Linked DNA regions of Homo sapiens: region 1 is linked to region 2. Evidence: fine-mapped expression QTL. Tissue or cell type: amygdala. Region 2 holds a variant in brackets; the other region holds the start of a gene. All regions are shown on one strand. Distances are from middle to middle.

Region 1 (5,122 bases), 29 kb after region 2:
AGGGACCGAATGAGTATGATTGAAACAGTGGGAGAAGAGGCTCAGCCACATAGAAACACACACCAACAGAGAATGAGGTTAAGAGAAGCTTCGGGTGAAGACCCTGCAATCCTCCACTTTTTCTTTATTTCCGAGGTCCAGGGCTCAAGAAGAGAGAGGTGGATATGAATGAATATGAACGGTGGCCAGGCCAGCAGACACACTGTCCACCTCTCTCCATGACATGGATGTAGCGGACTGGGACAAACACACAGGGACCAGACGCAGAAGGCAGGGGAGAAAGAAAAGCAGATGAAGGCCGGATGCGGTGGCTCACGCCTGTAATCCCAGCACTTTGGAAGGCTGAGGTGGGCAGATCACAAGGTCAGGAGTTCGAGATCAGCCTGACCAACATGGAGAAACCCCAGCTCTATTAAAAATTCAAGATTAGCCAGGCATGGTGGAGCATGCCTGTAATCCCAGCTACTTGGGAGGCTGAGGCAAGAGAATCGCTTGAACCCGGGAGGTGGAGGTTGCAGTGAGCCAAGATCGTGCCACTGAACTGCAGCCTGGGCAACAGGAGCGAAACTCCATCTCAGAAAGAAAGAAAGAAAGAAAGAAAGAAAGAAAGAAAGAAAGAAAGAAAGAAAGACAAACAAACAAACATGAAACAGAGAAATGAGCTGATCAACAAGAGACAGCTAGACATGAGGCAGAAGCTGAAAAAGACTCAAAGAGGAAACAGGTTGCTTCCCCCTCTCCCCTCCTCTCCCTCTCCTCCCTCCACCAAATTCTCACCAGGGCTGGGCCTGAATGAGGGCCCAGGTCCCGAGGATGGTGACCAGAGAATGCAAAGTGTGGGGGCCACAGGTGAACAGGGTGAGCCCCAGGCCCACAGCGGCTGCTCCCCATCTCTTCAGCCCAGGACCTGCAGGGGGAAGGGACAGCATAAGCCTGGAACCTTCCAGAGGGTCCCCCCCCTTTATTTTCCACTGGGGAGGGAGCCTGACTCACCGGCTTTCTTAAAGAGGAAGCCGATGGGGATGGAGATAAGAAGAACCACTAGATACGTCCATTCTTCAGGCGACATGGTCTGGGGGAGGGGCAGAGATTCACAGTGAGAACCCAGGAATCCAGGCCCCCTGCCTCCTCCCTCTTCGAGGATCCAGGAACCCAGCCTTCTAGACCCCAGTTTTTGAGGATGATGGAGTATGAGCCTCAGCTCCTCTCCTTTGAGAACCTAGCAACCCAGACTCCAGCCCCTTCCTCCTTGGAGGAGACAGGAATCCACCCCCAGCCCCTCCTTTGAGCGCACAGGCCTCCAGCTCTCCTGTCCTTGGAGAACCCAGGAAAGTGTGGGGATCTCCCAGCACCCAAGCCCCTCCTTTGCGAACGCAGAAATCAAAGCTACTCCCCGCACCCATACTGGGGACCCAGATTTGAAGACGCCCCTCTTTTAAAAACCCAGAAACGGCACCCCTCCCGGACCCTTCCTCTTCGACAGCCCAGGAATCTAGACCTCCGAGCCCCCTCTTCCAGCGAGGATCCAGGAACCCAGACCCCCTCTTTGGATCCCCCATCCCCCGGCCCTTGTGAAACCAGATATCCGGACCCCCCAGCCCTTCTCCTTCGAGACCACCCAGAGGAGCCCGGGTCTCCAACCTGCACCTCCTTCGGAGCTCCACACCCCTCTCCTACTGAGAACCCGGGGATCGAACACCCTCCCCTCCCCAGGCCCAGGCCCAGGCCCAGCCCCAACCCGTCCCGCGCACCCCAGCGCATCCCCGGCAGAGCCACAGGCGGTTGCGCCAGCCCCGAGTTCCAACGCGCCTCCGGGGCCGCCCCGCACCCGCCAGCCCGCAGAGACCCTGCCGCCGTGTAACCTCGCCTCGCCACTGGGCGCCGCCACCCTGGCCCACCTGAGCTGCTCGCCGGGCAGGAGGCGGCCGAGCAGTCCCAGCCCGCTTGCCGCCGCAGCTCCGGCCACGCCTCCCCCGCCCAGCGCGCCCCCGCGCCGCCTGCTCCTTCTGGGCGCCCGCCGGGCTGCGCAGATCAGGCCGGGGAAGAAGCCACGGTCAGGGCCCCGGGCGGGCAGGGAAGAAGCCCCGGAGCAGAAGCCGAGAGCGCGAGTCGGCAACGGGATTCGAGTCCAGGTCCACACTGGGATCCGAGCTCCGAGTACGTGAAGGGGCGGGCCTTCGGGCTCGGAACAAGGAGGAGCCAAAAGCTTTGGACCCGAAGGGGAACAGACGGGCTCTGGAAAGGAGGCGGGGTCTGGAGCTCGGCGTGAGGAATGAGGCGGGGTCTCCCTTCGGGTTCCTTCGGGCACAATCGGGAGCTTGAGTTCTCCGGAAGCGGGGCCACAAACTTCGGCTCACTTCGGCAATAGTCGAGAACGGAGAGCTGAGGCCACTGTGGGCGGAGCCACATGTTTCGGCTTTCTTCGGAGGTAGTCGAGTCCTTAGGGTCACTGTTCCGATGTGGGCGGGGCCACAGACTCGGCCGGATGTGGGTGGGGCCACAAGCTTCGGTTTACTTCGTAGATAGTTGGGTACAAGTGACGCTAGGATGATAGGCGGAGTCAACAGGTTCGCCAGACACCCATGAGTATTTACAAGGGGGCGGGGCGAAAGCGACTTGCCCTCAAAGGGGCGGAACCCCGAGGGCCGGCGTGCGCCTACGGGACCGGGCCAGGATGACGATCCTCAAGTTCCCAAGTAGAGGAGAGGAAGCGGCAGAGGGAGGTGCGCTCAGTGGGGCGGAGCCAAGGTGGCCCCCGCGGGAGGAGGGCGGGGCTTCGGTCCTGCGAGGGGCGGGACCTGACTTCCCGCGGCGCTGATGGGGCGGGATGACGAAGTTGACGAGGGTGTCGGCATGAGGGGGTGGAGCAAGGAGCGCGTGGCGCGGTGCGCAGTGGGTGGCTCCACCTCGACTGCGAATTACTGTTTATGAGGTGACTCGCTGGTTCTATCGGTGGACAGTGGGACATTCTGAAGGGAGGCAAGGAGGCGGACTGAGCGCTCCCAATTGGGGTGAGCCCGCCCGAGCGGAGAGTGGACGGCGGGTGTCCAGGGGGCGGGGCTTTCGGCTGTGGGGTTCGGTCGTAGGGCGGGAACTCCCCAACTGGGGTGCGCTGGCGCTCGGAGGGGGCGGGGCCACAGGCCGCGAGGCTGCCGGGAGCCGATGACGCCCGAACGCCGAACCTATTGCGTCCGGGAGGAGGCGGGGCTACGGATTCGGCCGAGCCGAGAACACCCGAACGTCAAATTGCTGGCGTTCGAGAAGGGGGCGGGGCTGCGGATTCGGTGGAGCCGAGGACGCCCGAACGCCGAACTTCCTGTGCTCGGGAGGGGGCAGGGTTTTGTACTGTGGGAGTCTGAGAGCGAGGAGGTCCGAAAGCCGAATCACAGTCGTTCGGAAAGAGGAGGAGCGAAGGCTCGAGCGTCCGGAAGAGGGTGTGGCCTCGGCGGTGCCTTAGCCTCCAGAGCTTCTGACCGCTGACGGGAACACCCGAAGGGGGACGCCCACTTTGCAAGAGGGTGGTGCCAAAATGGACCTTTGTAAGGGGGCGTGTCGCCGCGCTTGCGGAGGTTTGTTTTTCACGCTCCAAGGCGCAATGGTAGGTACGGCAGTGCGGGCACAGAGCGGGTGCCGACCGCAGGGTCACAAGGGTAGAGCGGGACCCTGGGGGCTTGGCGAGGGGAGAGGGTCGGGGGCTTGTCTCCGGCGTCTCGTCTCCGGCGGCCGCGAGGCCTGGTGGGATCGCCCGGGGGCGGGGCCTGGCGCTCGGGCCCAGCAGGTGGTGAACGGCGGCTGAGCGAGGCCCCGCCCCCTGAGGCCTAGGGGCGGGGCTTCGCCGAGACCCCGGAGGCTTTGGGTGCGCTGCAGCGGTCCGCGGCGCGCAGCTGTTTCGGTAACTGCTTTGCCTCCCGGCTCCCGCAGGAGGATGCTGGTGGTGGAGGTGGCGAACGGCCGCTCCCTGGTGTGGGGAGCCGAGGCGGTGCAGGCCCTCCGGGAGCGCCTGGGTGTGGGGGGCCGCACGGTAGGCGCCCTGCCCCGCGGGCCCCGCCAGAACTCGCGCCTGGGCCTCCCGCTGCTGCTGATGCCCGAAGAGGCGCGGCTCTTGGCCGAGATCGGCGCCGTGACTCTGGTCAGCGCCCCGCGTCCAGACTCTCGGCACCACAGCCTGGTAAGGGGGCGGGGCTCGAACTCGGGTTCGGTGGGAGCGGGACCTGGGAGTCAAGTTTCCTGGCTTCTGAAGGGACCATAAGCTTGGAGGTTCCAGCGAAGTGTGCTTCTCAGGCCCTGACATCCTTCAAGCGCCAGCAAGAGGAGAGCTTCCAGGAGCAGAGCGCCTTGGCAGCTGAGGCCCGGGAGACCCGTCGTCAGGAGCTCCTGGAGAAGATTACGGAGGGCCAGGCTGCTAAGAAGCAGAAACTAGAACAGGCTTCAGGGGCCAGCTCAAGCCAGGAGGCCGGCTCGAGCCAGGCTGCCAAAGAGGATGAGACCAGTGATGGCCAGGCTTCGGGAGAGCAGGAGGAAGCTGGTGAGCATGGGAGGTGGAGTCCAGGGACCACGGGAAGGAGAGGAGAGATCTTTTAGGAATTTTAGCTGGGAATCCAGTGCCTGGGTCTCCCTGAGGGTGAGAAGACTTTACCCCTTGAATTTACCAAACTCTTCTCTGTACTCCCCACCAGGCCCCTCGTCTTCCCAAGCAGGACCCTCAAATGGGGTAGCCCCCTTGCCCAGATCTGCTCTCCTTGTCCAGCTGGCCACTGCCAGGCCTCGACCGGTCAAGGCCAGGCCCCTGGACTGGCGTGTCCAGTCTAAAGACTGGCCCCACGCCGGCCGCCCTGCCCACGAGCTGCGCTACAGTATCTACAGAGACCTGTGGGAGCGAGGCTTCTTCCTCAGTGCGGCTGGCAAGTTCGGAGGTGACTTCCTGGTCTATCCTGGTGAGTATGGGTTGGGGCCTCTGGTTGCTGTGCCTTTCCATACGATCCCAATGTATTCTGCGTTTTTCTTTTTTTTTTTTTTTGTCTTAATAGAGGTGGGGTCTCTTGTTGCTTAGGCTGGTCCCTATTCCTGGGCTCAAGCAATCCTTCCACCTCGGCCCCCCAAAGTGCTGGAATTATAGGCCCAG
Region 2 (5,187 bases):
TCCTGTCGCTTTTCTTCCTTGTACTCTTTATTGCCTCTGATCACTCCTTTCCCTTCCTCCAGCAGCTCCCGAAACAGGTCCACAGGGCCAGAACCTGGGGCTCCCGCCTCTGCTGCTTCAAGCTCAGGCAGTGAGTTCTGATGTCTGGCTTTCTTCCGTAGGAATTCTGTACGGGCCTGGGGAGAAAGTTATAGGCAGGACATTCAGAACCTAGAGGTAATTCAAGAACTGTGAGTCTGGTGCCCACCACAGAAAATGGCAGTCCAGGGTGCTGGGGTTATGAGAAAGGGAGCACTAGGCGCCTAAAAGAGGCACCTGTCCTAGCTGGGGGTGAGGGTAGGCAGATGAGGCAACGCCTGGGTTTTGTAAACTCCCTTTCAAATAGTAAACCACGGGTCATCAAGGATGTATGGGAGGAGGTCCCTGGCCTAAACCAAAGGGGTTCCTAACCTCAAGTGAGACAATTAAAACAGCCATAAAGGTATGCATTAGGCCAGACGATCTGAATTCTAGCCATGGCTCCAAGTGACTACCCCAAGTCTGCTGAAGCCCTGTCCCCTGCCTTCAGGACGCGGATTTCAAACAGCGCTCAGCAGCCTACTGAGATTCTAAAAACCTAGACTACCTCCCACCCACGGCGGAGGATCAGACTAGCTAAGGAAATGAAAGTTGGGTGTACACCAAACAGATTTAAAGAGCCATACGGAAAGCCCGTGTTTGTGTGTATGTGTCTAGGGGGCGGTGCACGAAAGGGCTCGCCCGATGGCGTGGAGCCTGGCTGTCCGCCTCTCCTTAAAATGTGCCTTCCCCTCACTGAAGCCATCTCACTTCGTGCAACAGAGATGACAGTGCCCCTCTAAGAACGAACAGTGCTTATTGGGGATTCCGCAAGTCAGGTGCACGGCATGTAGTTAGCATACAGTAGATGCTCAATAAATAGGCTGTGCAGGCAAACTAAAAAGTGATCCGAATTTCCTTGAACTGTCCAAGGGTTCACGGATTCATTAAATGTTAAGCTTCTCTTTTGTGCTAGACACTGTTCCAGCCATGTGAAATACATCAGTGGGGGAAAAACTAAGACGAGGGCGAGATCAAGGAAGGTTTCGTGGAAGTGGGCACAAGGTTTGCGGGGCAACGTCCTCGAAAGTGGGATCGGCGCCTGGTCCCGAATTTCACACGGGGCACATTGAGCCTGCGCAACGCCTCCGCTTCCGGCCCCCAACCGCGGCGCCTGCGCGCTGGGCCCCGGAGCGCCGCCCTGCCGGCTTCCGAGCTTACCTCTTGCTGAGCCAGCAGCACCCTCCGCTCACGCTCCTTCTCCTCCTCCCGGGCCTGGGCCTCGTCACGCCGCACGCGGGCGACATTGTCCTTGTTCCGGACGTGCCAGCTCTTCTTGGGCAAGATATTCATGGCGTCGTAGCTGTCCAGGGACTGGCACGCCCGCCTCTTTGCACTTCCGATTGGCGAGAGGATGCCCCCCTTTTTCTTGTCCCTACTTCGACCGCGGATTGGTTCCGAATTAGTTGGTACGGCCCCCTGGCCTGTAGCGACAGGTGATTGGCTGAGACGCCCTTTATCACAGCGAATGCTAGGCGTTCGGCTCGTGGTATCCCCTAGCAACCGCCTCTTGTCACAGATCTGAACCAATCATAAGTTGGCCCGCCCCTGATGCTACCAGATGCGGCCGTCGATTGGCCGACATGACCGACAAGTCTCCTTGCGGAAGAGCGCTCTGCACCGACAAACATGCCCGTACATTTGATTGGCTCCTGCCCCGCTGTAGCCCTGCCCCCACCTTCAGGACGCAGATTTCAAAGCGCGCTCAGCAACCTCGGCTGTATTTATTGATACAAGGAAGATCACCCGAGAGTCAGGGACGTGGCGGCGAGGGGCCCTGGAAATCTCCAGATACCAAAGCTGGAAGGGCGTGGAGTCTTCTCCAGTTCTCCTAGTTTACAGATGTTGTGACCTAGGCTTACAATGGGCCTGGGGTCTGAAAGCGGGACGTGGGCTGCGGGGGTCAAAGAGCCGGTTTGGTGGAGGTCAGCGCCACAGCGCGCCGTGCCAGGAAGACTTTATTCTGCGCCTCCTGGGGCAAAGAGAGGTGGAGGTGAGACAATCCTCTTCCCCAACCCCTTTCCATGTTCCCCAGGGGCCCTCTCAGGGACCCGCCTGGCTCACCGTCT[C/G]TCTCTGACGTTTGAGCTCAGAGATGAGGCGTCCGTAGGAGTTAGCCAGAGCCACAGTGTACGCCATCAGGATGCTGAAGGAGACAGGAACGGAAGCCACTCCTGACACGCTCTTCCATTATATCCAAACGTCTGGCTCCTTCGAAGCCAGGGATGTGGACGCCTAAGCCCCTCCTCGTCTGGGCTCAAGGAGTTCAGTCTCCCAGCCCCTCCGCCTTCAGATCCAGGAGTCCTACGTCCCGCCCACCTCCTCCTTCGGACCCAGCAGTCCAGGAGCCTAGGCCTCCTCCCTCAGACTCAGTACGTTGCCTGCTCCCACGCCCAAGCCTCTCCTCTCTTGGACGCAGGTGGTGGCCCCCAGATCACACGCATTCAAACCCAGACCCAGAAGTCTGGGCCGTCTCACCTGGAGATCAGCAGAAGGGGCACAGCAAAAGCCTGGGTCCCCAGGAAGAAGAGGAAATTCTGGGTGGTCTCAGGGAGGCTGGAAATAGACTCAGGGATCTGGGCCCAGATGGACGACTGCCCCCGGAATGGACCACACAGCTTAGAAGGCGGGATCCTGAAGTCAAGACAGGCTGGGCTCACATAGTGCCAGGAGTCTGAACACTGAATGGGGAGAGAGGGAGGGAGAGAGGCGGGAGCCTCTCGCACTTACAGGAAGATGCTGTAAAGCAGGGGAACGCTGGAGATGGCCAGACCCAGGAGAAGGACCAAGGGGAAAAAGAAATTCGCCGCGGAGGCCCGGAAGGTGCGGGCAGCCGGGGAGCAGGTGGAGAAGAGGGTAAGCTGGTGGGGGAAGGCACGGAGAAAAGGGCTCTGAAACACAAGAGTCTGTGCCTCCATTTTTTTTTTTTTTTTTTTTTGAGACAGAGTCTCGCTCTGTCGCCCAGGCTTTTTTTTTTGAGACAGAGTCTCGCTCTGTCGCCCAGGCTGGAGTGCAGTGGCTCTCACTGCAGCCTCCCCTCCCGGGTTCAAGCTATTCTCGTGTCTCAGCCTCCCGAGTAGCTGGGATTACAGGTGTGCACCACCACTCCCGGCTAATTTGTTTTGCTGTTGTTGTTGTTTGTTTGTTTTCTCTTTTTGAGACGGAGTCTCGCTCTGTCGCCCAGGCTGGAGTGCAGTGGCACGATCTTGGCTCACTTCGACCTTCACCTCCCTGGTTCAAGCAATTCCCCTGCCTCAGCCTCCTGAGTAGCTGGGATTACAGGCGCCTGCCACTAAGCCCGGCTAATTTTTTTTGTATTTTTAGTAGAGACGGGGTTTTGCCATGTTAGCCAGGCTGGTCTCAAACTCCTGACCTCAGGTGATCCACCCGCCTTAGTCTCCCGAAGTGCTGGGATTACAGGCGTGAGCCACTGCACCCGGCCTACCTGCCTCTCCTTTTTTCCGAACCAGGAGTCTGAGCCCCTTCCTCATCTAGGACCCCGGAGTCTGAGTCCCCAGATCCTCAGACATATAAGTCAGAATGCCCTAGACCCCTCCTCTCAGATGCAGTAGTCTGTCCTCCAACCCCCTCCTCTCTCAGGACCGAGTAATCCAGGCCCCCAGGATCTTCCTTGCCCTTGACCCAGGAGTGCGGGCCCCAATACCTCCTGCCTCAGACCCAAGGGTCCCCCCTACCCCTTACCTTCTTCAGGTAGAAAAGCAGCAGGAACTTGACCGTGTTAAGCAGGGGCAGTAAAGGGCAGAAAAAACTCCCCACCCAGACCACCGTCTGCGCGTAGATGAGCCCCAGCACCTCGTCGGGCACCTGGAACTCTTGGGTCCCCGCCAGACGACCCAGCGCCCCAGGACAGAGGCCACAGAGGAGCCTGAAGGACGGGGCGGGGCCGGGCCGGAGTCAGGGGAGTGGCGGCCTGGAGTTTCCACGCCTCCACCGCCCCGCCCGCCAATAGGAAGCATGCGTATTGGTGGTGGGGGGGGGGGGGGCGGGACTTTCAGGACTCCACGTGGAGGGGGTGTGTCCAGAGGGCGGGTCCTGAGGACTAGAAGGGACCCAGATGTCGCCGCCGTCGGGGCCAGAGGGAAGTAACCCACTAAAACAAGGGCGGGGAGCGGGGAGATCTGCGGACCTAGGGCAAGCAAAGGGAGCAGGCAGAGGCGGGAATGGTAAAAAGGTGCGCGGTGAAAAGAACAGCGCGATGGGGCACGGCCTCGTCCTAGAGGGGCGGGGCCACAGCAAGGGGCGGGGCTCTCACTTTCTAGGAAACTGGATGAGCAGCGCGACTGCCAAGACAGTCAGCAGATCAAAGAGCAGAAGTTTGTACATTTCCTGGCCCAGGACAGTCTCCCAGCACTGAAGAAGGAAGAAATATATCAGAAAGAACTCGGGACCCGGGCACCTGGAGGCCCACGCGTCCGAGTCTCCACATCGCAAGCCTATGAGACCCTGTCAATACTTTCTCTGGGGGTCCTCGTTTTTCAAACTTTCATACCCTTGGGAGAGTGTTCCAGCACCCCAAGCTCCCCTCTCCGCCCAAACCAAGAGTCTGGACCCACCCAGCTCCATCTTTCCTTCAGGGACCCAAGAGTCCCACGCACACCCATGCCGTTCTCACCGGAAGTTGTTTGTAATTGTAGCCACAGGTTTTGCAGTCCTCAGCCTCGGAGTCGCCCCCACAAGTGATCTGATTCCAGAGAGAGAAGAGCAGGACCACCAGGGAGGCGAGGCGAAGAAACACGGTCCTGAAGGGGGGAAGGCAGAGAATGGGCCCTGACCCGGTACCCACCATGTGGCAGTTCCCTTCTCAGTGGAACGCGCCCGCATTCAACCCATCTCACAGATGAAGCTGAGGCCCAGTGACAGAATCAGGATTTCTTTCTTTCTTTCTTTCTTTTTTTTTTTTTTTTTTTTGAGACAGGGTCTCACTCTGTCACCCGGACTGGAGTGCAGTGGCGCGATCTCAGCTCACTGCAACCTCCACCTCCCAGGCTCGAGCCATTCTCCTGCCTCAGCCTCCCGAGTAGCTGGGACTACAGAAGCCACTACCGCCGGGCT

Evidence for each region. PIP is the estimated chance that this variant, and not a neighbour inherited with it, causes the effect.
Region 1: MBOAT7 starts here. The variant in region 2 is fine-mapped to the expression of MBOAT7 in amygdala (GTEx, PIP 0.99).

Annotation. Positions count from the first base shown.
Region 1 is chr19:54,187,440-54,192,561 of GRCh38, forward strand. MBOAT7 (membrane bound acylglycerophosphatidylinositol O-acyltransferase MBOAT7) reads right to left here and starts at 2,141. Exons shown (of 8, transcript NM_024298.5): 1 at 1,899-2,141; 2 at 994-1,072; 3 at 778-907. The coding sequence starts at 1,069. It overlaps TSEN34 (tRNA splicing endonuclease subunit 34), which reads left to right and starts at 3,869. Exons shown (of 4, transcript NM_001077446.4): 1 at 3,869-4,168; 2 at 4,282-4,525; 3 at 4,677-4,934. The coding sequence starts at 3,926. RefSeq lists enhancers at 1,469-2,154, 2,155-2,836, 4,805-5,122 and a silencer at 3,759-3,960.
Region 2 is chr19:54,158,286-54,163,472 of GRCh38, forward strand. LENG1 (leukocyte receptor cluster member 1) reads right to left here and starts at 1,436. Exons shown (of 4, transcript NM_024316.3): 1 at 1,279-1,436; 2 at 1-176. The coding sequence starts at 1,410. TMC4 (transmembrane channel like 4) reads right to left here. Exons shown (of 15, transcript NM_144686.4): 9 at 4,748-4,874; 10 at 4,388-4,485; 11 at 3,817-4,000; 12 at 2,845-2,975; 13 at 2,593-2,748; 14 at 2,182-2,260; 15 at 1,823-2,089. The coding sequence ends at 2,021. RefSeq lists an enhancer at 769-1,438. The variant C/G (reference allele first, on the strand shown) is at 2,187.